Linked DNA regions of Homo sapiens: region 2 is linked to region 1. Evidence: fine-mapped expression QTL. Tissue or cell type: whole blood. Region 1 holds a variant in brackets; the other region holds the start of a gene. All regions are shown on one strand. Distances are between the middles of the regions. Region 1 holds the start of SRRM5 (serine/arginine repetitive matrix 5). Region 2 holds the start of CADM4 (cell adhesion molecule 4).

What was found. PIP is the estimated chance that this variant, and not a neighbour inherited with it, causes the effect. A credible set is the group of variants that fine-mapping cannot tell apart.
Region 2: it holds the start of CADM4, and the variant in region 1 is the best candidate, but not a certain one, in a credible set for the expression of CADM4 in whole blood (INTERVAL, PIP 0.71).

Annotation. Positions count from the first base shown.
Region 1 is chr19:43,611,283-43,614,287 of GRCh38, forward strand. ZNF428 (zinc finger protein 428) reads right to left here. Exons shown (of 3, transcript NM_182498.4): 2 at 2,947-3,005. SRRM5 (serine/arginine repetitive matrix 5) reads left to right here and starts at 806. Exons shown (of 1, transcript NM_001145641.2): 1 at 806-3,005. The coding sequence starts at 840. The coding sequence ends at 2,987. The variant C/T (reference allele first, on the strand shown) is at 1,618.
Region 2 is chr19:43,638,528-43,641,027 of GRCh38, forward strand. It overlaps CADM4 (cell adhesion molecule 4), which reads right to left and starts at 1,323. Exons shown (of 9, transcript NM_145296.2): 1 at 1,200-1,323. The coding sequence starts at 1,263. RefSeq lists a silencer at 1,207-1,346.

The sequences.
Region 1 (3,005 bases):
AAGCCTTGGCCTCTGCTCCTCGCCCACCTGGTTGACCCGTTCATTTTTTTTTTTTTCGAGAGAGAGTCTCGCTGTCACCCAGGCTGGCGTGCAATGGCGTGATCTTGGCTCACTGCAACCTCCGCCTCCAAGGTTCAAGCGATCCTCCCACCTCAGCCTCCCAAGTAGCTGGGATTACAAGCGTGTGCTATCACACCTGGCTAATTTTTATATTTTTGGTAGAGATGGGGTTTCACCTTGTTGGTTAGGCTGGTCTTGAACTCCTGACCTCAGGTGATCTGCCTGCCTCAGCCTCCCAAAGTGCTGGGATTACAGGTGTGAGCCACCGCGCCCAGCCTGACCCTTTCTTTCTCTACTGGCAAAACTCCTGCTCCTTTTTAAAGCCAAGCTCATGTCACCTCCTCTGTGAAGTCCTCGCTGACTCCCCAAGCGGTCAGTGTCTCTCTCGTATGGGCTCCCCGGCCCCTGCACTGCTCTCCATCACACCCTGACCACTCTGGGCAGTGGCCCCCCTCCCCACCCACTGACTATGGGCTCCTTGAAGGCAGGGCCTGGGTCTGCCCCATCTCTGTGTCCCCAGCAATGCTGGGCATGAGTCAGCCTCAGAAGACATCTGCTGAATGGCTGCAAACCAGAGGAAATATCTCCAGCCTCAGGCTGGGACCCCTCCCCTCTCTCCTCCCACCTCTGACTTCATACCACTCACCCTCCAGAGTCTTCAATGCCCACTATTACTTCACACAGTTGGCCTGTGACAGGCAATCAGGTCATCGTCCACGGCTACCAGGTGTTTCATGTCTACTGTGACTTCCAGGACCACAAGCCCTTTTGCGCCCACCATGTCTTCACCTAAGAGATCTTCAAAGCCCAGTATGTCTCTGGCACCCAGTGGATCCTCCATGCCCACTGCGGATCCCAAGCCTCCTGCCTCCTTGAAGTCCACCAAATCAGCAACACCCAACAGATCCTTAGTGCCCACCAAACCAGCGACATCCCGTAACTCAGTCATGAGCCCAAGCAGTTCCAAGTCCACCAAATCGACCAGTACAAAAAGAGCCCCTTCTAACCGGCCCAGCAGCAGGTCCCGAGTCCGCAGCAAAGCAAGAACACCCAGCAGGGTGAGCACCGACACCAGGACCAGCAAAGCCAGCAAGGCCAGCGACGTGAGATGCCACCAGCGGAGGGGCACACACAGCCGGGGTAGGACACCTGGCAGAAGGGGAAGCCGCAGCTCCAAGAGGTCACCCAGCAGGGCCAGCACTCCTGGCAGGATAAGAACTCATGGTGCCAGACCAGGCATGGCCAGCAGGGTGAGAACTCCCACTTCACAGCAAAAAGGGAGCCGGGGAAAGAGTTACGGCCGGCCTAGAACCAGCAACAGGGAAAGGAGTGACAGCCAGCCTAGAAATCTGAGCAAGAAGAGTTACCGCCCACCAGGAGGCTCAGGTATAGGGAGGAGTTCCGAGCTGGCTGTAACTCCCAGTACAGCCAAGTGTCAAACCCCGACTGGAATTCCCTCCAAGGAGAAGAGTGACAACCCATCTCCATCCTCATCAAGGAAGGTGAAGAGCTACGGTCAGATGATCATCCCCAGTAGGGAAAAGAGTTACAGCCCCA[C/T]TGAAATGTCCAGCAGGGTCAAGAGTTATAACCAGGCCAGCACCCGCAGCAGGCCGCAAAGTCACAGCCAATCTAGAAGCCCCAGAAGGTCAAGAAGTGGCAGTCAGAAGAGGACGCACAGCAGAGTGAGAAGTCACAGTTGGAAGAGAAACCATAGCAGGGCAAGAAGTCGCACCCGGAAGGGAATTCTGAGCCAGATGGGAAGACACAGCCAGTCTAGAAGCCACAGCAAGGGGAAAAGTCAAAACCAATCTAGAACCCCCAGAAGAGGAAGAAGTCACAACTGGTCTAGAAACCCCAGCAAGGAAAGAAGTCATAGCCATTCCAGAAGCTCCAGCAAAGAGAGAGATCACAGGGGATCTAGCAGCCCCAGGAAGGAGAGTGGTCGCAGTCAATCAGGAAGCCCCAACAAGCAGAGAGATCACAGCCGATCTAGAAGTCCCAACAAGGCGAGAGATCGCAGCCGATCTAGAAGTCCCTACAAGGCGAGAGATCGCAGCCGATCTAGAAGTCCCAACAAGGCGAGAGATTGCAGCCGATCTAGAAGTCCCTACAAGGCGAGAGATCGCAGCCGATCTAGAAGTCCCAACAAGGCAAGAGATCATAGCCGATCTAGAAGTCCCAACAAGGCGAGAGATCGCAGCCGATCTAGAAGCCCCAGCAAGGAAAGAGATCACAGCCAACTTGGAAGCCCCAGCAAAGAGAGAGATCACAGACGATCTAGAAGCCCCAGCAAGGAGAGACAGTGCAGACAATCTAGAAGCTCCAGCAAAGAGAGAGATCACAGACGATCTAGAAGCCCCAGCAAGGAGAGACAGCGCAGACAATCTAGAAGCCCCAACAAGGAGAGAGATCGCAGCCAATCTAGAAGCCCCAGCGAGGAGAGAGAGCACAGACAATCCAGAAGCCCCAGCAAAGAGAGAGATCGCAGACGATGGAGAAGCCCCAGCAAGGAGAGAGAGCGCAGACAATCTAGAAGCTCCAGCGAGGAGAGAGATCACAGCCGATCTAGAAGCCCCAATAAGCAGAGTGGTTACAGTCGACCTAGAGCCTCCAGCAAGGAGAAAGCTCATAGCCGATCTAGAACCCCCAGCAAAGAAGGAAATCATAGCCAATCTAGAACCTCTAGCAAGGAGAGCGACCCCAGTCAATCTACAGTCCCCAGAAGTCCCGACTGGAAGAGATCCCCTACTAGGACAAGCAGTCTCAGTCAGAATAGAACCCCTAGCAAGACAAGCAGCCACTCCCCATCAACATTTCCCAGTGGGGGCCAAACCCTAAGCCAGGATGACAGTCAAGCCGACGCCACCACCTCTAAGGCCACCTTACCTGGGGAAAGGTCTTCATCATCTTCTTCCAAGCTGGCGTAGCCCCCAGTCTCAGCTGGC
Region 2 (2,500 bases), 27 kb after region 1:
GGGGTGACCCGTGGCAGGTTCAAGACTTACACAGTGTGAGAGTGTGTGTGGGTGACATTTCCTGACCTTGTCCCCATTCTCAGGGTCACCCAACCTCGGGGGTCTCCAGCTTCTCACAGTGTGTGATGAGGGTATGTGGATGGCTCCCTGGATGTCCTGGACAGGGGCTTCTCTGTGAGTCAAGCCTGGGTGTGTGAATGGGTGAGCAGGGTTTGGAGAGGCATTCGCTGAATCCACGTGTGTGCCTACACGCCAAGGTCCCCCATTCTCACTTCCCCACACACATGCACACAGATGTTCCCCTCCAGGGCTCTTTAGAATGCCCTGCCTGACTGAATTCCTCTTCAGGGGCACAGAGGGATAGAGAGAGGGAGGAAGGTAGGATGGGAATGGGAGATCCCGGGATGGAGGCTGTAAGCGTAGAGAGAGGAGGCACAGCAGAAAGACAGGGATGGAGATAGTGGGACAGAGAAGGGGGAAAGAGACAGGTGACAGAAAGGGTTAGAGAAACGAGTGACAGAAAGACAGGGGACAGAGACAAGGGGATGGGGCAGATAGGGGACAGAGAAAAAGGGACAGAAAAACAAGGGTGACAGCGAGACAGAGACAGGGACCAAGAATAGGGGCAGAGAGGGAGGGCAGAAATCCGGGGGAAAGAGAATAGACAGGATGATGGAGGGGACAGAGTGACCCAGGAAAAGGGGACAGAGACCAGGGGACAGAGGTAGGGGACAAAGACAGAATAGATGAGGAACACCGAGGCAAGAAGAGAGGGAGACAGACAGAAGGAGGGACAGGACTTCGAGACTGAGGGATAGAGGACAAGGGTAGGGGGACGAGGAGCCAGACGGGGGGGTTCAGAGACGGGCGGACAGAGGGACGCAGAGACTGGACAGAAGGACAGCGGGACCGGCCTGGGGAGGGCGGACTTGTGTGTGTAGGGGGGTCTCGGGCCCTTTGTCCCCGCCGGGATCCAGCCTGCGCGGGTGGGGGGGCTGCGGCACGGCGGCCGGGCCCCGCGCCCCCTCCCCCGCTCGTCGCTCCCGGCTCCCGGCCCGCGCTGCGCTTTGTCCCGGGGAGGGGGCCCGGCCCGGCCCCGCGCGCATTGTTCGGCCTCTGCGGCCCCGAGGCTGCCGGGCTGTCACCACAGCGCGCCCCCCGCCCCAGCCCGGCCGGCCGACCCCGGCCCCCGACCCTACCTGGCCCCGCCGCGGCCGCCCACAGCAGCAGCAGCGGCCACTGGAAGCGCCGGGCCCGGCCCATGGTGCCGCCGCCGCCGCCGCCGCCGCTCGCTCCCGGCCCGGCACCTGCACCGCCCGCGCCGCCCGCCCCGCCCCCCGCGCCCCGCCCCCTGCCCGCCCGGGGGCGGGGCGCCGAGGCCGGGGCGGGGCCGGGGAGGGGAGGGGGAGACGGAGGAGAGGCCCGGAGACAATCGGGGGGACGGCACGGTGGGGGAACGGTGCGGGGTGCGAAAGCTGGAGAGGAGAGGGGTGAGGAGGGCGGGAAGGGGTGCGCGGGAGGGCGACAGCGGCGTGGGAGCAGGTGGGGGATCTCGGTGAGCGCGGGAAATGGAGGGTGTTGGGTGAGGGTGCTGCGTGCGGGCCCAGGTGCTGCGCGCGAGGGTGCGGAGTTGCTGGCATGCAGGGTGCTTGCGCTGCGCGGAGGGGAGGGTGGCAGGGTGTTGCTGGAGGCTGTGCGAGGGTGGGGGCGCGGGCGTCGTGGGGTGCGGTGTGTGCGAAGGGAGAGCGTGGCCAGCGTGACGGGGGAGCGTAAGGGAGGGAGTGCGACGTGGGAAAGGTGAGTGTGAGAGGCGTGCTGCGGGCAGGTGGGTGTCTGGAGTCTAGCGAGAGGCTGTGAGCTGAGCCACCGGGACAGGGGAGGCTGCAGCTGGAGGTCCGGAGGGTCCGGAGGTCGAGGCAGGTCAAGGATCTCCCAGGGCAGGGCGAGGCTGGGGCTCAGGAGTGGGGTGGGGTCAGTTCCCTCCCTCCCTCTCTCCTGTCCTGACCTGAAAACCCCGTGTTTCCGCGTCATTCTCCGGGAGGGGCCCCCTGAAAGTGAACTAACTGGAAGGAAGCCTGAATCCTGGGTCCCAGGAGGGAGAGGCTCCTGTGAACACCTTCCAAGCCCTGGCGTCCCCTCTCCTCCCTGCTGTCTCCCTGCCCCAGCCTCTCTCCCTCTCTCTGCATGTATTTGCCTCTGCCCTTCCTCTCTCCCCATCTTTGAGGGTGACTCACCCCTCCAGACTTAGGTCCCTTCTCCCTCCTGGGAGTGGGTTTCCCTGAGCCCACTTCTGTGACACCCTGTAGACCTGATGCGGGATCATTACCTATGGGACCCAGAAAGAGTGAGAAACCATGGAAAGAAGGCCTCGACCTCTCTCATGCCCATTTGTCAGGCAAACTGAGGTCCAGAAGTGCCAATTATGAACATCTTTCCTTCCCCCCTCCCCCCTCCCCGCCCAGACGGAGTCTCGCTCTGTTGCCCAGGCTGGAGTGCAGTG